4 separate regions of the Homo sapiens genome follow, and regions 1, 2 and 4 are each reported to be linked to region 3. The links are microRNA targets in miRTarBase. Many come from high-throughput screens and were not tested one by one. Region 3 holds a microRNA gene; each other region holds the end of a gene's coding sequence.

What was found. The annotated mature microRNA hsa-miR-659-3p reads CUUGGUUCAGGGAGGGUCCCCA and lies in region 3 at 2,339-2,360, opposite strand. An mRNA with a match to its seed (bases 2 to 7 or 8) in the 3' UTR can be bound and repressed. Matches are read on the target gene's strand: a 7mer-m8 pairs with bases 2 to 8, a 7mer-A1 pairs with bases 2 to 7 and ends in A, and an 8mer does both.
Region 1: miRTarBase lists NPEPPS as a target of hsa-miR-659-3p. Seed matches in the 3' UTR shown: 7mer-m8 at 888-894.
Region 2: the mRNA of RAPGEF2 is a reported target of hsa-miR-659-3p. Seed matches in the 3' UTR shown: 7mer-A1 at 4,075-4,081.
Region 4: miRTarBase lists EXOC2 as a target of hsa-miR-659-3p. Seed matches in the 3' UTR shown: 7mer-A1 at 399-405.

The regions. Positions count from the first base shown.
Region 1 is chr17:47,621,598-47,625,597 of GRCh38, forward strand. It overlaps NPEPPS (aminopeptidase puromycin sensitive), which reads left to right. Exons shown (of 23, transcript NM_006310.4): 23 at 171-1,679. The coding sequence ends at 323. It overlaps KPNB1-DT (KPNB1 divergent transcript), which reads right to left. Exons shown (of 4, transcript NR_171700.1): 4 at 1-490. Among named protein-coding and RNA genes, the nearest start is that of KPNB1-DT, 26 kb to the right of the region's middle.
Region 2 is chr4:159,356,460-159,362,864 of GRCh38, reverse strand. It overlaps RAPGEF2 (Rap guanine nucleotide exchange factor 2), which reads right to left. Exons shown (of 30, transcript NM_001394067.2): 30 at 2,692-4,751. The coding sequence ends at 4,726. Among named protein-coding and RNA genes, the nearest start is that of MIR3688-1, 230 kb to the right of the region's middle.
Region 3 is chr22:37,845,355-37,851,759 of GRCh38, forward strand. MIR659 (microRNA 659) reads right to left here and starts at 2,420; the gene lies at 2,324-2,420. EIF3L (eukaryotic translation initiation factor 3 subunit L) reads left to right here and starts at 4,065. Exons shown (of 13, transcript NM_016091.4): 1 at 4,065-4,128; 2 at 4,661-4,709; 3 at 5,926-6,136. The coding sequence starts at 4,096. It also overlaps a transcript of ANKRD54 not described here. RefSeq lists enhancers at 3,184-3,706, 3,707-4,229, 4,230-4,751.
Region 4 is chr6:482,916-486,915 of GRCh38, reverse strand. EXOC2 (exocyst complex component 2) reads left to right here. Exons shown (of 28, transcript NM_018303.6): 28 at 152-1,762. The coding sequence ends at 245. Among named protein-coding and RNA genes, the nearest start is that of IRF4, 93 kb to the right of the region's middle.

The sequences.
Region 1 (4,000 bases), not on the chromosome of region 3:
CAGGTCCAAGGAGTTGCTTGTTTTCTTTTAGCCTGAGGGTGGCAGTGGTAAATTCTCATGCCTGAAGATTATGCATCCTTCATATAGACCAGTGGGTATTTTTTCATAACCTGTAATATTAACTTCTTATTGCTAGTAATGATCCTGCATTCTGGGTTGTTTTATACCAGGCTTTCTTCGAGAGTCACCCAGCTCCTTCAGCTGAGCGTACCATCCAGCAGTGTTGTGAAAATATTCTGCTGAATGCTGCCTGGCTAAAGCGAGATGCTGAGAGCATCCACCAGTACCTCCTTCAGCGGAAGGCCTCACCACCCACAGTGTGAATCCTGAGGTGCCGCCATTGGCGGTTCTGCTGCTTCGCTGCAGGGATAAGGTGGAGCTACCGAACAGCTGATTCATATGCCAAGAATTTGGAGTCTTCTTTCAAACCAGTGGGGGTTGGACAATGAATGTAGTTAACTGGTTCCTGCTCACACTCCAGAATTAAATTCTATTGAAAAAGGAAAATCAGCAATTCAGCAAAAAATAAATAAAAAATAAAAATGTAAATATGATAGTAATAAAATAGAGCATAACGAAACTGTGAAACTTTCTGAAGCCTTGTCAGTGGTTAAAAGTATTTAACACTCTACTGTTAATGACAGATGTTCTGTTTTTATAACCTACCAAAAGGAAACTAGAGGCTTCTTGGTGAAGAGCATTTTTGTGAAGTGGGTTCTGCAAGGAGCCTATAAAGCCAAGGGTGGTGTCCATTTCTGGGAATGGTTAAACACAAAAGGCTGATAGCTGGTATCACATAGTTGGAGTCAGTGCATAATTCCAAGTGGCTTTTTTTTTTTTTGGCACGGGGACTGATCAGGAAGATATATTCCTGCATAACTCAATCTGAACCAAGGATTGTAGTTTAGTTTTCCTCCTTGCCTTCCCTTCTGTGTGACCGACCCCTTGGCCAAAAAAAAACAAAAAGCAAAAAACAAAAACCTACCCTGTTCTGGTTTTTTTCCTCCCTTTAGTTCCACCCCCAACCCCCATTCCCTGGTGTCCTTCTTAGAGATGAAGAAATAATAAGGAAACATCTTTCATAGCCACATTAAATAAGAGAAACTGATATACATTATTTTTTTCTTTTTAAAGATGACTTATAAGAACCCTGAAATTTATATAGGTGAGACAATAGAAATAAAAAGATCTTCAGCCAGGCCTTTCTGAAGGAGTTATTCTGCTAAAAATGGTCTTAGTTGTCTGAAAAGCCAGCTCTTGAACCTCTTCACAACAGTATCAACACTGGCTTCTCCCGGTTCATTTTATGCGTGCGAGAAGTCAGTGGTAACTGCTGCAGGGCTTAATACATTAGTGGTAACTGGTTTAAAAAACAAAGACTGTAAGCCTGTGTGTGCCACTGTTTGCTTCAACAGTATATCCTAATAAGCCTCACCTATTTAATCCAATGAGTTTTAAATCTAAATCTCATTCCCTTCTTCTTTCCCTACCTTTTTTTTCTTTTTTTCTTAAAAAAATATTTTGTGTTATTAACAGAAATTCATATTTGGTGTGGCTTAACGGTATTTCAGAAGGTCATCAGATTGTGAGACTGCTTCCTTGAAACATTTTTGTGCTATTGTTTTAAAAAAATAATTAAAAAACAGTTGGCGTTAATAAAAATGTCAATGTGAAACTGATGTCCTGATTCACTTTATTCTCTTTCTTTGATAAGAAACTAAAAACTTTCCTATCATTCAGTAGGCTTATGCAAAGTTATACTATCATAGGATTTTTCAAATTCAAAAAAAATCCAGTTCCTTAATTCCTAATTTATAGATCTTAACAGAAAAATCCTGAGATTCATTCTAAATCAGTTCTACATTCTCAAAACTCTCTCAGAGACTCTTATAGTCAGCATTCAGGAATGAACTTGAGACTTCCTCAGTCCCTAGTTTTGAGGCACCCTAGTTCAGGCACCATGCTCAGGGCTGCCCTTAGGCTCTCAAATGTTCTTAAGGCACCAGTGAAGCAGGGGCACCAAAAAGACTGAGAAAAATGCAGGTTTAATTGAAGAACTCAGAATTTTGCAATCAGAAATTCTGGAAACAGGTTATTTTACTTTCAGCATACATGTGATTTTTGTCTGTAATAATAGTTAAGTAGTTTGAATTACGTTCAGGGAGAGGTTATACTAGATGTCTTCCATTTGCCTTTCAGAACCCCTCTTCATCCCACTCTGGACCCCAGCGGGTGCTGACCCACATGGACTGCAGCATGAATGGCTCCCTTGCCCTCTGACTTCAGCTTCTGTTTATCCAATTATTAATATCCAAAGAAGATGAGAAGATATAAGGAAGAGATGGTCAGAGTACTCTGGCTTTCTCATTGCCAGGTCACATGGGTTGTCTGTGTCCCTTTAGCAAAGACCACAGCTCTTACCAAGCAGCCCCCTCTAGCTTCTGGCTCCTTCTCTTTGCTCCTTCACATCTAGGAATAGAAAGAAAGGAGAACTCGAGAGCTGGGTGCGGTGGCTCACGCTTGTAATCCCAGCACTTTGGGAGGCCGAGACGGGTAGATCACCTGAGGTCAAGAATTCAAGACCAGCCTGGCCAACATGGTGAAACCCCGTCTCTACTAAAAATACAAAAATTAGCTGGGCATGGTGGCGCATGCCTGTAATCCCAGCTACTCGGGAGGCTGAGGCAGGAGAATTGCCAGAACCCAGGAGGCAGAGGTTGCAGTGAGCCAAGACCGTGCCACTGCACTCCAGCCTGGGCAACAAGAGTGAAACTCCGTCTCCAAAAAAAAAAAAGAAGACTCAAGCTGGGTGCGGTCACTCACACCTGTAATCCCAGCACTTTGGGAGGCTGAGGTAGACAGATCACCTGAGGTCAGGAGTTTCAGACCAGCCTGGTCAACATGATGAAACCCCTGTTTCTACTAAAAATACAAAAATTGGCCAAGCATGGTGATGCATGTCTGTAATACCAGCTACTTGAGAGGCTGAGGCACAAGAATTGCTTGAGCCTGGGAGGCAGAGGCTGCAGTGAGCTGAGATCGTGCCACTGCACTCCAGCCTGGGCAACAGAGCGAGACTGTCTCAAAAAAAAAAAAAAAAAAAAAAAAAAGGACTTAGTTACCAGCCCTGGATTACGCCATTATTCTTCATTGATTTTCCTGCACTCTGTCCATGTCTCTGTAAATAGTCCTTTATTAAACCTTCCTCAGTTTGTGTTCTTTCCTACCAATACCTTGAGTGATTTGGGCACAATAGCCCTGCTGCTTTGGGTCTCTAAAGGTTTTAATTCAGCCTTTTCTGTGTCAGATGTTTTGTTTTTCAAATAGCTCCCTATCATAAGTCATACACCCATTTTACAGATGAGAATGCAGACTCAGAAAAGTAAGGCAAATTAATACAGCAAAATAACTATCAACCAGTGATCAAGCCAGGTTTGCTAGTCTCCAAAGGCTGTGGTCTTTCAGGGAACTGCCATGTCTCCACAATTAAAAGATCATAGTTAGACTGGGCCAGGCAATAGCATTAAAGCTTAATTACTTTTTCCTAATATATTTTGGTTACAAATTTTAGTGGAAATCAGAAGGTTTGGAAGAAACAAGTATGTTAATGCCTCCTATGGAGAGTTTTACATTATTTTTCATTAATGAGATTCAGTAAAGCTTTTTGGAACAGTGGGCAGTGGTGGGGTGAATTCTCAACTTGCAATTTCTAAGGATAGGTTTTAGGGAGCAAGGAATAAATCTGTTGAGTACAACTTGGGGAGGATTAAGAGGAGTTCTATAGCTCTAAATAGATTCTTCAAATTCTATAACCCAAAAAGTTTCCAGAATTACCAGAAAGACATCATGGAGCCACATGTAAGTGCTAATGTTTTTTGTTTTTATTTTTTAGCAAGTTATTAAATAAAAGCAAGTGGGCCGGGCACAGTGGCTCATGCTTGTAATCCCAACACTTACCAAGGCAGGTGGATTACCTGAGGTCAGGAGATCAAGACCAGCC
Region 2 (6,405 bases), not on the chromosome of region 3:
CCTACTTTAGCCTCCTGAGAAGCTAGGACTACAGGTGCACACCCTTACAACTGGCTGTATTTTTTATTTTTTGTAGAGATAGGGTCTTGCTTTGTTGCCTGGGCTGGTTCTTGAATTCCTGGCACCAAGCAATCCCTCTTGCCTCAGCCTCCCATAATGCTGAGATTACAGGTATGACCCACTGTTCCTGGCCAAAAGTTTCTTAAATTGTATTAAACTTACTTCTATTTTTGAGGTGTTGAACACTCTGAATTAAGTTGATTTCACTTTCAGTCTTTATAAAGCTGGTCATTTGACTCAATTTATTTCAGATATTTTATTCTAGGCTTAGACATTTTTCCCATAAGAATTGTTACCATCTTGATTGCCCATGAAATAAAGTCTTTTCTGGCATTTCTTAACCTTGCATGGAATGTCGTGATTGCCTCTATAAAATTTTCTGGTATATGGCTATGGCATAGTAACAACTAGCTTGCCTTGTACTTGGCTAAAATGTGAATCTTTTAAAAAATGCAACTCAGGCCGGGCACAGTGGCTCACGCTTGTAATCTCAGCACTTTGGGAGGCCAAGGCGGGTGGATCACTTGAGGTCAGGAGTTTAAGACCAGCCTGGCCAACATGGTGAAACCCCGTCTCTACTAAAAACACAAAAATTAGCCGGGTGTGGTGGTGCACGTCTGTAGTCCCAGCTACTTAGGAGGCTGAGGCAGGAGAATCGCTTGAACCCAGGAGGTGGAGCTGAGATTGCGCCACTGCACTCCAGCCTGGATAACAGAGTGAGACTCTGTCTCAAAAAAAAAGGCAATTCATAAATTATTTTTCAGTTCCAGTCAGTATTTTCGTCTCACTCTCAAATAGGTAAATTCTCACTTTAAAATCTTTCTTGAAAGTGTCATGTTGGCCTCAGCTGCAGTTTGCCTTACACATTTCCGTCTTATTGCCCCTTTCAACAACCTCTGCTGATATTATACCCTTAGTGAATCTTCACAAAATAATTTACCTCTGCAATCAACAACTTGACTCCTCAGTTGCTGCATTACGTTTATTCTCTAGGTAAGCCTTTTTTTTTTTTTTTTTTAAAGAATGCTGGTATCATGGGATAAAGCGCTCAAGAGAGTTTCCTATTTTTCTTTGGCATGAATGTAGTGCACTGGCGTTGAGAGGCAGAGACCAAAAGGTGTGTTGATACATGCATCCTCAGAAGCTTGCATTATTCATTTTGGGATATTATCAGTGAACTAAAGGTAAAACATATTAAATCATAGATGAGCATAAAATCTATACCTCCCAAAAGCAGAGAAATGGATTGAGGCTGAGAAAAACATTCTGAGGACTTCAACCTGTATGTATGAAAACACAGACCCCGGTCTGTGTGGCCTCTTTGATTAGGGTGGAGAGCATCAGACCTTCACCAAAACCTTCTACAATATCCCTAAAACTTGGCAAAGTTCTATTATTAACATAACATAAACTCTGTCCCTGCAAACTGTTACACTTGGCAAATACTTATTTCTGGAAACCCTTAAGTGGAGACCAGTCTTGTGCTACACGGAGGAAGTATCCTAAAACATAAAAGTCTAATAAAACCTAAAAGGAAAACGAACCATGCCCTATTTGTCACTGTCTCATATTTTTAGCAGAACACACACAGTAATGATAAAGAGGTTATTCTCCAAAACATCAGATTCTTAGTATTTTTTCAAAAAAAGTTTGAGAAAATTAAGCTGAGTGACAGTCTAGGAAAGTCCCTGAGGAATGGGTTTTAAAGTGAAAAGACAACAGAGATGAGCATGTAACAACATACACAAACACGCAGGTTCTTCATTTTTTAAAAGGTGTGGTTGAAGCTACTAGAATGGTTAAAAAATAAATAAATAAATAAATAAATAAATAATTTTCCCGACTATTTTGGTGTCCAGGTTTTCAAAATTTCTCAGCAAAATAGCTGGCACGAATACCTTGGAAAGATCTTGAAGCCTAGCCCTGGCCATTTTCCTGTTAGCTTCTGGAGGGACCTTCCTCCCGCTCCTCTTCAGGCTCCCTCACATGTTCCAGTGTTTGGTGCCTCTGCTTCCAGTTGCTTCCACTCTGACTTCTGAGACTTCTCAGTGGCTGATGGCTAATACTTTTAGTTATGCTTGCTTGAGGAAAAGAAATGAGTCACTCATTTAAACATGTGCGTAAGCAGGCTGCTACTTACTGGTTTTTACCTTTTAAAATTAAGTGCCCTTCTGATAGACTAAAGTATTATTCAGACTTACCACACATCAGCACTCATATTGTGTACTAGTTAGAAGTCCAGAATCACTAGCTAAATTGTACTCTCCACTTAATAATCATGACCTTGAATGTCAGTTTCTCTGAGGTCCTGTCTCTCAGTATGTATACTGGGAACCAAAATATTACGTACCATAAAGATTATTGTTGGAAACGGTTGAGAAGAGACAAATGTTATGCAAATATATTGTGACAGCATCTTCATTTTCAAGAAACACTGAATTCTGAACATGGTTTGGCTGGTGCTAACGTTAATGATATTAATTGCTTTGGATCAACAGAGATCTGCCTAAAATAAATAGGCTATTGGGCAGTTTCCAATAACCATGAGGCTAAATCTCTCCAGCCGAAGGACTTGCTTCTGCAGGAGACGAAAGGCTTCTATTCCAATTTAATAATAAAAAGCATGCATGATTCATTAAGAATATAGGCAAGGCTTTATGTTATATTTATTTATTTTCCAGCTTGTACAAACTGGATGTAGAAGCATAAACATAGTACATTTCTACCATCTTCAACAAAAATATAACCAATATGTACAATTATTGTATTAAAAATACAAAAGGGATACAGACTCCACCAATGTCTTTCTAAAAGACATACAGGTACAAGTAGTATCAAAAGTATGAGGAAATCACCAGTTAATTGTACATTCTGCACTTGACATCACAGAGCGAACTGAGATTAGCAGTCCTATGTTCTACAATTACTTAATGCTTAGATAACATTTGTGCAACTTGTGGTAGAGCTAGATTTCTGTCTTTCTATATGCACATGAGGTCCATAGCCTATATAATAAAACTGGCAAATAATGCATATTACATGTAAAATTACAAATGCATAATTGACAATGTAATAAGCAAGTAGACAAATGCCATGATACAGAAGAGAATTATTAAATAAAGCACTGACATTGTTTGATACAGTGAAAAAACACTGCAATTCCACTTTTAAAATTTGAAGCTATTTACGTTTATCTACTGATCAATATGATCAGCTGAATTTAATGGAAAAAAAATCCAAGACCAGCAGTTCCTCACATTTGAGTACTACTCAGATTGGCAGCCTTCACTTTTCCGGAGTCTGTGCAAAACAACACAAAAATAGAGTGGAGGGGTCATTTCAGTCATTATAGGGTTAATAGCAGCTGTGAGCAGATGGTTGCTACACTTAGGCCTTCTCTATATGCAGCGTCCATAAAGCCACTTGGAGGTTAGTCTTTGGTGACTAACCTGCCTTGCAAAGGCTGGCATGTCTAACCAGGTTTTTGATCTTTTATCACGTTTAAAGGCTTGTTTATTCCCTAATGCCAATTCAATAAAGGGAGGCTGTCTTGAAAGAGCAGTATAAACAGCTGGCATTAGCTCCAACATCCCAAGCTGCTTTCACTGCAATGCTATCCAGTTATAAATGTTTCTCTTAAAAAAAAACAAAAAAACAAAAAACAAAACCTACACCTCTAAATTAACAAAAATCAAAGAAATATAACTTAAAAATGGGGTTTGCCATCCATCTCAATGGAGCAGGACACATCCGCCAATGACACCGTCCTGCCTCCATAAGGCTCAGACAGGACACAAGGGTCCTAGTTCCCTCCCCTGGCCATGTGCAAACAGTTTTACAGAAGAACCCCATCCACTGGGGAAGGAGCAGATGAGGTGTCTTGGTATTAATTGGCTAACATTTCATACTTCCAGGATAGGGCACTTCGCGGGTGAGACCAGAAGGACATGGGAAGCCAGGGTCACAAGCCAGGTCTTCCCGTCTTCTTGGTGTGGCCACACCCTGTCCGGCATATTTGGTTTTTCAGAAACCAGGCTGGCAACCCTACTTAAGGTTTAAAATAATACTGTAATCATTAAATGGATATATATTTACTCTCTGAACAAAATCTTTAAACTCATTTTTTTTTTTTAAAAGGAGGACATTGTAAACAAGTGGACAAGCACTGTACTCAAAGGATTTCATTGTTTTTCTTTGTCTTCCTTGGTGGGTTAAAGGCCCCAAGTAGTTCAATGGCTAGCTTTTCTCATTATCCCAATGAGATCAAGTGCTAGGACTGGATTGAAATCTAAAAGGAAGATTAAAAAAAATCCTTCCAGGCATTGAGAAGTGCAGCCAGAGTGAATCATCTTGTTGTGATGATCTTGGAATTTGGAATGATACTGTGTGATGTGGCAGGCAGCAACAGTGGGAGCTCGAAGATTGCTGCACTGTGCATTTCAAGCAACAAAGTCTGAAAAGTGCCAGGGCAATTTCTTCACAGTATTTCACATGCAAAGGGGAAAGGAAGAAGGGGAGAAGAAGCCCCATGCTGCTTTTAAGGCAGGGAAGGAGGCAAACTGGTCCACCGTCCTCAGAATGTGAGTTCCAAGGCTCCAATGCTCAGGACGTCTTCTTGTGCTCTCCTTTCAGGTGGCTCGCTCTGCTTCCAGAAAAGTCTGTGCCTCAAACAGCAGAAACTTGTTCATCTTCTGCAAATACAGCAGGGAAGAAAAAGAAATCAATGAGCAAGCAAGTAATTTCTTGTGCTATAGAGAATATATTCACTGATGTGCTAAATAAAACTATCATAGTTATTCTTTTTAGTATAGCTCACTTAGAATCCTTGTCTTTTTTTCCTAAACAATGACGAACAACAAAAAGGTTAAAATGTATGCAATACATATCTTTACATATATACACACAATATTAAAAAGATATGCATTATATATTTTTGTTCAGAAAGTTGTTAAATTCATTTTAAAAAGTTGTAAAATAGCATGTGCCATTTAAAAAAAATATACGATCAGATACACATAAAAAGTCTAGAATATATAACAACATTTTAATAGTGGCTATCTGCAAGTGACAGGATTTTAAGTAATTTTCATTTGTAATGTTTTTCTATTTATTTAATTTAATTTAACTTTTTTGAGACAGGGTGTGGGTTTGCCATCCACAGTGCAGTGTTCTCGGCTCACTGCAACCTCCGCCTCCCGGGCTCAAGCGATTCTCCTGCCTCGGCCTCCCAATCTCCCAGTCACGTGTTGCTTTTTTCTATGATTGTGTAATCAAACATGTTAAACTGAAAACTTTAAAGAAGATGGGAGGCCATGTTCTCCTTCCTCATTCTCAATTCAGCATGGTCAGATAGATTTGTAGAAAGAACGCACAAAGAGTTATAAAGAATGTGGGTTCCTTCCTTCCTTCCCTTTCTCCCTCCCCTTCTCTCTCTCTTTCTTTTAGAGACCGGGTCTTGCTCTGCTACCTAGGCTACGGTGCAGTGGCACAATCATGGGTCACCACAGCCCTGAACTCCTGGGCTCAAGTGATCCTTCCACTTCAGCCTCCATAGTAGCTAGGACTATTGGCACACGCCACCACGCCTGGGTCATTTGAAAAATATTTTTATGGAGACAGGTCTCACTATGTTGCCCAGGCTTGTCTCGAACTCCTGGCCTCAAGCAATCCTCCCACCTCAGCCTCCCAAAGTGCTGGGATTACAGGCATGAGCCATCAGGCTGGCTGATAATGTATCTTTCTTTATCAGACTTTCATTTCCAAATGAGTCCCAATTCATTAAAAGCGCAAATATAATGTTTCCACAGAAAACTTTAACCATCCACCTTTGAGAATCCTACATGCTTCTAAAATTCTTGACAACAGCACAAACTTGTGAAATTTTCATTTTCTTTTCCTTTTTTTGAGACAGAGTCTCACTCTGTCACCCAGGCTGGAGTGCAGTGACATGTTGTTGGCTCACTGCAACCTCTGCCTTCCGGGCTCAAGTGGTTCTCCTGCCTCAGCCTCCCGAGCAGCTGGGATTACAGGTGCCTGCCACCATACCCGGCTAATTTTTGTATTTTTAGTAGAGACAGGGTTTCACTACTTTGGCCAGGCTGGTCTCAAACTCCTGAGCTCAAGTAATCTGCCCTCCTCAGCCTCCCAAAGTGCTGGGATTACAGGTGTAAGCCATCGCACCTGGCCTATTCTTTTTCTTAAAATAGGGTCACAGAAGTACTTCAATTTTAACGAGAATTAGAAAAGAAATCAAGTCATATAAACACTGTATTTTAAGTGACTCCCTCCATAATCTTTGGGATTTTTTAAGCCATTTAGGGAAACACACATACACAGACACACAGA
Region 3 (6,405 bases):
CAAGCAACATTTCATGGGTGCACGTTTTCATAAAACTTCTCACAATCCCGTACCCCACAAGCACTTCTATAAAGTAGACAAGAAGGACCATCCCTATTTTATAGGTGAGGAGTTGAAAAGCAGAGGGAAGAGACTCATTCACAGTTGCCCAGCTCTCACCGGACCAGGTCTTGTGTCCTGGCAAAAGTTCTTTCCATATATAAACCCTCCCACTCAACCCAGTTAAAATGTAATCTTTCCGCACGGTGGGTCACGCCTGTAATCCCAGCACTTTGGGAGGCCAAAATGGGCAGATGACAAGGTCGGGAGTTCAAGACAAGCCTGGCCAACATGATGAAACCTCGTTTCTACTAAAAATACAAAAATTAGCTGGGTGTGGTGGCGCACGCCTGTAATCCCAGCTATTCAGGACACTGAGGCAGGAGAGTAGCTTGAACCTGGGAGGCAGAGGTTGCGGTGAGCTGAGATCGCACCATGGCACTCCAGCCTGGGTGACAGAGCGAGACTCCATCTCAGAAAGAAACAAAAACAAAAAAAAGGCCTGGCGCTGTGGCTCACGCCTGTAATCCCAGCATTTTGGGAGGCTGAGGCAGGCAGATCACGAGGTCAGGAGATTGAGACCATTCTGGCTAACATGGTGAAACCCCGTCTCTACTAAAAATACAAAAAAATTAGCCTGGTGTGGTGGTGGGCACCTTTAGTCCCAGCTACTCAGGAGGCTGAGGCAGGAGAATGGCGTGAACCCAGGAGGCAGAGCTTGCGGTGAGCCGAGATCGCACCACTGCACTCCAGTCTGGGCGACAGAGAAAGACTCCATCTCAAAAAGAAAAAAAAAAGTAATCTTTCTCTTACAATTGGAAAAGCACTTCCAGAATTTTCAGTGTTTGCAGTCGCCATTGTGAGGTTTATCATTGTACTATATGGAAAAAAATGCTATGTTTATTTGTACTCTCCTCGTCTGCCCCATAATGGATACAGTGCTGAGACAGGATCTCTCACTGTCACTCAGGCTGGAGTGCAGTGGTGTGATCACAGCTCACTGCACTCAAGCTTTCCTCCCACCTCAGCCTCCTGAGTAGCTGGGGCCACAGATGTGTACCACCGTGCCTGGCTAATTATTTTTTTGATTTTTTGTAGACATGGTCTCACTTTTTTGTTCAGGCTGGTCTTGAACTCCTCGCCTCAAGGGATCCTCCTGCCTCCACATCCCAAAATGCTGAGATTACAGGAGTGAGCCACAGTGCCTGGGCCCCAATTTTTTTTTAAGATGGGGTCTCACTATATTGCCCAGGCTGATCTTGAGCTCCTGAGCTCAAGTGATCCTCCCACCTTGGCCTCCCAAAGTGCTGGCATGAGCCACCACATCCAGCCCCATGAAAATCTTCTGACTTCACAACTCCTTCTCAAATGTCATGAACATTTTGAGAATTGTTGTCAAATTGGAGCAACCTGTATCAAATTCCTGTCATATATGGACTATAAGATTTCAGGTAATTTCTTTTCTTTTTTTTTTTTTTGAGACGGAGTCTCGCTCTGTCGCCCAGGCTGGAGTGCAGTGGCAGGATCTCGGCTCACTGCAAGCTCCGCCTCCCGGGTTCACGCCATTCTCCTGCCTCAGCCTCCCAAGTAGCTGGGACTACAGGCGCCCGCCACTACGCCCGGCTAATTTTTTGTATTTTTAGTAGAGACGGGGTTTCACCATTTTAGCCGGGATGGTCTCGATCTCCTGACCTCATGATCCACCCGCCTCGGCCTCCCAAAGTGCTGGGATTACAGGCGTGAGCCACCGCGCCCGGCCAATTTCTTTTCTTTTTTCTTTTTTTTTTTGAGGCAGTTTTGCTCTTGTTGCCCAGGCTGGAGTGCAGTGGTGCAATCTTGGCTCACCACAACCTCCGCCTCCTAGGTTCAAGTGATTCTCCTGCCTCAGCCTCCCGAGTAGCTGGGACTACAGGCATATGCCACCATGCCCGGCTAATTTTATATTTTTAGTAGAGACGGGGTTTCACTATGTTGGCCAGGCTGGTCTCGAACTCCTGACCTCAGGTGATCCATCTGCCTTGGCCTCCCAAAGTGCTGGGATTACAGGTGTGAACCACTGTGCCAGGCCTCGGAGAAGGGTTATTATTTAAACTAGAAACTAAATGTCTCCCAAAGTTAGCTCGGTTCGAGCCAGGAATGATTAAGGGCAGTCTGAAGATTAAATGGAAGATGAGGGTTGGTTAGATCAGATCTCTTTCACTGTCATTATTTTCTCACTGTTACAATTTTTGCAAAGGTGGTTTCAGCAATAAAAATATTTCACAAATTTTACAAAAGCAAAGGACCATGAGGACATTGTTGGGGACCCTCCCTGAACCAAGGAAGAGACTGTGACTCTTCCTTGGTTCAGGGAAGGTCCTGAACCAAATCGAGGGTCGGTAAAGCTTAAGCTCCATTATTTCCAAATTTGTGTCACCTCTGGTGACAGCACAAGGAAGAAACACAAAACAAGAACGCAGCATAGGGAGTTGGGGCTGGGCATTGCAATTCTCAATAGGATGTTGAGTGGATGGCATCAGAGCAGACACCTGAAGGTGCCATGCAGATACCGATGGGGAAGGGAATGGGAGTGGGGGTGCCACTGCATTCGATTCTAGACTTGGATAACAGTGAGTGCAAAATCCCAGAGGTGGAGCGTGCCTCAGTGGGAAAAGCAAGGAGGGCGGCGTGACAAAGGGACCCAGAGAGTCCTGGTCACACAGCAAATCAGTGGCGGAGTAGGGACTGGAACTCGGATTTCCACTAGGTGTTGTGTATGGGCAGATGGCTAAACTAAGGCCTCTCCTTGACTCATACACCGGTTTTTATTGGTTTGCTTTATAACCCCATCTCTACCTTGAGGGTTTCCCCTGGCCTCGAACCCGGTGTACTCAAGAGCTGCCCATGTCCCAGGCTTCGCGACACAGCTGGCCTCATCTTTGCCTGCTCCAACTTTAATGTCCAAAGTTGGGTGGCTCCTGTTCTCCATTCCCTCTTACTGCATGGGACCAAATCTCAATTTTTTTTTTTCTTTTTTTTTTTAGACGGAGTCTTGCTCTGTCGCCCAGGCTGGAGTGCAGTGGCGCGATCTCGGCTCACTACAGCCTCTGCCTCTCAGGTTCCACCGATTCTCCTGCTTCAGCCTCCTGAGTAGCTGGGATTACAGGCGGACGCTACCACTCCCGGCTAATTTTTGTATTTTTAATAGAGACGGGGTTTCGCCATTTCGGCCAGGCTGGTCTCGAACTCCTGATCTCAGATCATCCACCCGCCTCGGCCTCCCAAAGTGTAGGGATTACAGGCGTGAGCCATCGCGCCCGGCCAAATCTCAATTTTTATCCCCAGTAAGTTTAGTCTTGTGAAGTCCGAACGTTTGAATAATTTACTCGCTGCAGGCAAACCGCCTACAACTAAATCCATCAGGCCCCCGTATCCGAATCTTCCTTCACGCGAGAAGCCGGCCATCTTTTGTGTAGCATTCTTTCTGGTTCCTCTAACTTTGCCTCTCCTTTACGCCAAATACGTGTCCTTATATCTGAATCTACACCACTATTATAGATTCACCTTCTTTGAGAAGTCCCTATTTGAAGAGAGGAAAATTCAGGCTACTTGTAACCCTCTTATTCTTTTTAGACGGAGTTTTCCCTCTTGTTGCCCAGGCTAGAGTGCAATGGCGCGATCTCGGCTCACCGCAACCTCCGCCTCCCGGGTTCAAGCGACTCTCCTGCCTCAGCCTCCCGAGTAGCTGGAATTACAGGCATGCGCCACCACTCCCGGCTAATTTTGTATTTTTAGTAGAGACGGGGTTTCTCCATATTGGTCAGGCTGGTCTCAAACCCCCGGCCTCAGCCTCAGGTGATCCGCCCGCCTCGGCCTCCCAAACTGGTGGGGTTACAGGTGTGAGCCACGGAACGCGGCTCCTCTTCCTTCTGGATATGGCTGTCTCAGATGGCCAGAGGCCTCGGAAAGGCTTCCGGTTTCCCGGCAGGCCCGAGTGGGGCTGAACTTCCGGCCTCAGGACGCAGGCGCGGGCCGCTCATTTCGCTCTTTCCGGCGGTGCTCGCAAGCGAGGCAGCCATGTCTTATCCCGCTGATGATTATGAGTCTGAGGTAAGGTGGCCGTAAGGGCGCGGTGGGCTCCACGACGGGGTGATCTCTGGGACCACTGGATGTGGGTCCCGGCGCGAGGCAGCTTCCGGGTCGCGGCCAGCTCCGGCCGACCTCCCGCCCGGCCCTCAGGCTGCTCCCACAGTTCCCGGTCCCTAGACAACCCTGGCTCTGCCCGCCCACTTCGCGTGTTCGATTGGCTTGTCCTTCCCCTTTCTAAGACCGGAGACTAAGGCCTGTTAGACGTTTCTGTGTTTCTGCACCTGAGTTTTTTTGGTCTAGGCTCCGTCTGGTCAAATCTCGCTGATTCCCACAGCCTCTTGTCCTTTGCTCCACCTCATTGCACCCGTAATGTTGTATTGTCATTGTCTGTTTACTGTCCCTTTTCTCTAAGGCGTGTGAGTTCCTCAAAGGCAGGCACAGTGTCTTATTCGCCTCTGTATCCTTAGCTCTCTGCTTGGCATCTAGACTCTAGGATGAGCGTTTTGAATTCACGACTTGGCGGCTGTCCTTGACTGTGTCTCTTTCCTTCTAGGCGGCTTATGACCCCTACGCTTATCCCAGCGACTATGATATGCACACAGGTGAGACCACGGGTTAGGCTGGCTGAGTACTCGTAGGGATCAGTTCCTTTGGAATGTCTTAGAACCAGCTCTGACAGGCATCAAAAATTGCTCTTTGATGGTCCAGGTTTGGAGTCAGTCATTAGCTGCCAGTGCGAGGGGTTTTATAAAGCCTAATAAACCAGGCTTTTTATCATAGTCCACCTCAGTCTTGGAAGAGAAGGATTACTTACCTGGCTATGGTTTTCTTGTGTAAACTATTAGCCAAATAAGAAAAGCTTTTTTGTTTTTGTTTTTGTTTTTGTTTTTGAGATGGAGTTTCCCTCTGTCCCCCAGGCTGGAGTGCAGTGGTGCGATCTCGGCTCACTGCAACCTCCGCGTCCCTCGTTCAAGCAGTAGTTCTCTTGTCTCAGCCTCCTGAGTAGCTGGGATTACAGGCGCCCACCACCATTCCCAGCTAATTTTTAAATTTTTTTAATAGAGACGAGGTTTCGCCGTGTTGTCCAGGCTGGTCTTGAACTCCTGACCTCAGGTGATCCACCCGCCCCAACCTCCCAAAGTGCTGGGATTACAGGCGTGAGCCACCGCGCCTGCCCCAAGGAAGAAAATCTTGATGTGAAAAATTTAAGTAATTCAAACCAAGCCCGAATGAAATCTTTTTAGGAGGTGTCTGAGGTTTCCTGAAACGTTATAGTGACTTGACTTAGTAGTCAGTGTTATCCATTGTTCTAAGTACTTTGTATGAAATATTTTGTTTAATCCTTACAGCAGTTCTGTATGTTAATGTCTCCTAAAGAATAGAAAATATAGCAGAGAGGTTTATTAGTAGTAACTTGGCACAGTCATATATTTAAAAGGTGACAGTTATTCATTCAAGAAATATTAAGTACCTGTTACCACTTACTTTCCAACAGTCTTGCCTCTCTCCCCTCCAACGCACACTTTTCTAGGCCCTGAGGGTATGTCTGAGTACAAGACAGACGAGATTCCTGACTTCCTAGACTTGGGAGAAGGGTGCAAAACAGATAATAAGTGAAAAATAACTTTAAGTCATGGTAATATTTTTGAAGAAACAGGGACAACGAGATTGGGAGTGACTTGAGATGTTTGTATCTCTGAGTATTCAAAAGGGAATTTTACGCAGACCTGAGTTTAGTTTCTGGGGTGGTCTTGCCATTTCGTTCTATCATATATGTGGGTTTGAGCATACTCTGTATTTGTTGTATCCAACCTCCAGGAGATCCAAAGCAGGACCTTGCTTATGAACGTCAGTATGAACAGCAAACCTATCAGGTGATCCCTGAGGTGATCAAAAACTTCATCCAGTATTTCCACAAAACTGTCTCAGATTTGATTGACCAGAAAGTGTATGAGCTACAGGCCAGTCGTGTCTCCAGTGATGTCATTGACCAGAAGGTGTATGAGATCCAGGACATCTATGAGAACAGGTATGGGCTACTGGCTGAAAGGGCCTCTTTCTGGGTGGGACTGGCCTGGTAATATAGTTCCTACAAATGAGGTGAGCACTCTGTAAACAGTACTTTCGGGGGGGTTGGGGGGTGGGGGTCTTTGTGAGTCCTTGAGGCTAGGGACATTTTATTTTGTTAGACTTTATTTTATTTATGCATTTGTTTATTTTTTGAAACGGAGTGTCACTCTGTCGCCCAGGCTGGAGTGCAGTGGCAAGATCTCGGCTCACTGCAACCTCCGCCTCCTG
Region 4 (4,000 bases), not on the chromosome of region 3:
GCTGAGTTAAGGATCCATAGGTAGAACTTTTCAGCTGCCTTCTCCACACAGCAAGCCCAGGCAGAGCCGGGCACTGGCTCCCCTGGTGTTTTCTTGCGTTGCTAGGCCGCCCCATCTGTCGGGCTGTAAAACAAGTGTCTCCGTCCTGCAGGTTACTGGAAGAGCTCCTGAACAAGTTCAAGAGTAGCATGCACTTGCAGCTCACCTGTTTCCAAGCAGCTTCTTCAACCATGATGAAAACATAAATATCTGCCACATAAAAGAAGTCCAGGAAAATAACACGTAATAAGACTGTTCACTCTCTAAGTACCCTAAAGGTATTTGGTGTATTAAACATTGGGTTTGCCATTTTTCTCTTTTTTCTTCCTCTGACTTCGAAAATTGTTGGTATACATTTCAACCAAAATGACCTCATTTGAAATGCCCAGGAAGTATTTGTTTTGCCATTCTTACTAGATCAGATCCTGTATGACTTTAAAATACATTTTAAAATATATTTTGCATCTCAGCAGAAGGTTGAGTGCTGCAGGAAGAGCTGCTTCTGCAGGGAGTTTTCTGGAATGGCGTGGCACATATTGAAGCATTTCTCAGTGTCCCGTTCACGGAAGCGCAGGCAGCTCCCACGACACACGGAGAGACTGACTGATACGAGATTTGGAAAGCTATGTAGACATCTTTGGAGCTCTTACTGTCCTAAACTGTACAGCTGTGCTTAAAACCCTCATTTCATATAAATGGCCTTAAGTTTTCTAATTCAAGCGGGTTTTTGGAAAAATTTATGGTCTCCATTAAAATACATATTACAACTGGGGTAGATTATTTGTGGTCCAGGTGTCTGTGATTTAACTTTGCGTTTTGCTATCTGATTTTTATTTTTCACAGGGCTAAGCATGAGCTTTCATTCTCACTCACTCTTAATTTGTCGTGCGTCACTACACATGCACGTGTTGCAGTCCCTGAGGCCCTGTGTGTTATCTGTGATGGAGTGTGAATGTGTAACGGGCACTGTGTTACACTCTGAGGTGTTGGCGGGGCGGTCGCAGACTTCAGGGTCCCCTAACGGAAAGGCCAGGCTCCGCGTGGACGGCCAACTCCCTGCCCGCTCCTTCAGCAGGTGACTGTCTCTGCCACTTCTTACCTGCTGAAGGATCTTGCTCAGTAGCTGGAACAATGCTGCTGTCACACAGTCTCTTCTCTGAAACTTCAGGATGCTCCTTGGTCACCAGGCAATGGGAGCTGTAGACCAGCCGCATGCACTTGCCCCACATTCACTGCTGACTGGCTTCACTGGAATAGGTTCAGGTCACCGGGACTTCTCTCAGAGTCAGCGGCCCACCCAACTCCCTCATACCGTCGCATCTGAAAATTTTCAGAGAGGAATTCTCTTTGTAGTCGGCTTGTCAGGGTTTTCAAGTTTTTCTATGGTTATTTTTAAATCTCTTTTTTTAAATGCTAAAATTAATGTCCTCATTAATGCAAGTAATTTTAGAGCACAGTGTAGCCATGTACAGTTTCCATTATTTAAAATAAATAAATGTGTTGGTTCATTTGGTGTATGGGGGGACATCATGGTAACTGGAAATGAAAGTTTAATCTTTCACAAATGTGCTTGATAAAGCTGTTAAGAATTGTCTTTCCTAAGTATGTTAACTGTTGTATCTAACTCAACTGTGAGCTAAGTTTAAAAACTGCAATCATGAATGTTTGTGATATTTTAAATATCTACTACAGCACATTCAGCCAATAAAGAATCTGCCTTTAATGTAAGTTGTAATTTACTTGACATTTTTCCCTAAGTGTCTTTATTTCAACATTTTCATATTTCTACTGTTAACACCCAAAATACTTACATTCTGGTTAACCCTGTATTGGTAAACACATTGTCAGAAACCATCTGTCAGGTCCTGCTAATTCTGTTTGCTGGGGACTTACCATGTGCGAGGCACACCATGAAGTGCCTCGTTGAATCCTCACAACAGCCTTATGATACATGTGGGCTAGCTTACCGCCACGTCCATTTAGCAGAGGAAGGAATCAGGGCTTAGAGAGAGGTTGGTGACTTCCGTAAGACTGCAAGGCAGTAAGTAGCAGGACTCATGTTCACACTCTGGCTCTGTATGTCCTTGACTTCACTACTGCTCAGCTCTTCCTTCCAGCGGAATATGCTTTCTGACATCCATCCACCTGGGTCACAGCTCAGAGAAAGTTCATCAATTCCAGAGGCTAATAAACAGTAGCAACACGGAAACCGGTAGTGCTTTTATGGCTCAGAGTGGAAGGTAAAGGCCTAAAAACCCCATACCCAAGTGAGGGAGTTCAAGGACTACTATTCCAACAAGTCAGGGGGGACTTCTTGGAAGAAAGGGGGATTTCAAGAGCTACTTGAGTTACAGAACCCTGGTTTAGTGGGTAAGAGGAGATGAATATGAAATAAGTTAGATGAAAGCCGAGAGAGAAACCAGGACCTGGAGCAAGTTAACGAGGCAGCTGAGAAAACAAATTAGGGAGGTTCAAGGTACTTCAGTGCTCCAGTGGCATTTCATTTCCAGCACACCCATGTTCTTTGTGGGTCACAGCATGGCTTCATGTGAGTTAGCTGAGCTGGCCTCACTTGAATGGGAAAGAGCTATTAGAAATCACTTGGTTTTTTACTAAGACTTTCTTTATCAGTGTACCATGAAAGAGCATATTCTAGAAATGATTTGGGCATTGCAAAACAAGCATCATTGCCTTAGGCTGAGCACACTGACTCATTCTCCTGTCTCTTGTCATCTTTGCATGTAGATTTTTTTAAAGGGAAGAAATAGAAGAGATTATATTTTTATTCTGGATTTGGTACAAGGTGGTGGTGTGTATTTCTGTTTTGATCACGTGCTATGGGATATTCTGTTAGTTTCATAAGCGTGTTGTGTAATGTTTTCAGAAAAGTTACAAATTTTAACTAGTTTTTAAATCAAGATTAGGTTTCTAAAAGTCAAATATATTTTATGTAATATTCATAAAATAATTATGCATAGACTAAACTTGCATACATTTTTGTCACTGAACATTTATCTGTTGGTTCTGTTGCAAAGATTTTCATATAGATCTGTGAACTGCTCTGAAAGATATATTTAATATATCACTCCTCAATTAGAGCAGCAGCCATAATTATTTTAGCTTTGCTTTAAACACAGTTGCATATTACTCTATACTAGGGCCATTATGCTTTTTGTGTGCTGATCTCATCTCATTTCTGCTCCCCCAGAGGAGGATTTATTACATTGAGGTTTATTACGTGTATTACTGGAAAGCCTTTCTGTACCTGGCCAGGTTAGAAATATATAGCAATAAACATCTTACGGACAAGACCTGGGTCTTTGGGTAACTTGTTTGCAGTTTGGCTAATGAAAGGCAGTAGGATATCAGAGTGTCTTTCTCCTGTCTAGGCACAGAAAATCCTAGACAAAGTGGGCAGTGAAGCTTGTCTTGTGCCTTCAACAGTGTTTTACCATGACTGGAAGCCGTTGGTTTTCTTCTTGTGGTCACTGTTGATATTTTCATGGTTGTTATCATTATCATCTCGTCACATGTTAAAAAAAGATTCTCGTACCACCTTCCTACAACCCCTCTAGCCAGACACAAATCCCTGAGAACCAAGACCACTTTATCCACAATGAAGTAAAATAAAATACGTTAGCAACAATTTAATAGGAGATATCAGCAGACATAGAAACAATTTTTAAAATGAAAAATTTAGAACCAAAAAATATAATTTCTGAAATAAAGCAAAAATACTGACTGGGCTTAAATAGCAGTGAGGATAACTGAGGAAAGAGTAAAGGAACTTGAAAATAGACAGATCAACGAGACAAAGTTAACAAGGATACCCAGGAATTGAACTCAGCTCTGCACCAAGTGGACCTAATAGACATCTACAGAACTCTCCACCCCAAATCAACAGAATATACATTCTTTTCAGCACCACACCACACCTATTCCAAAACTGACCACATACTTG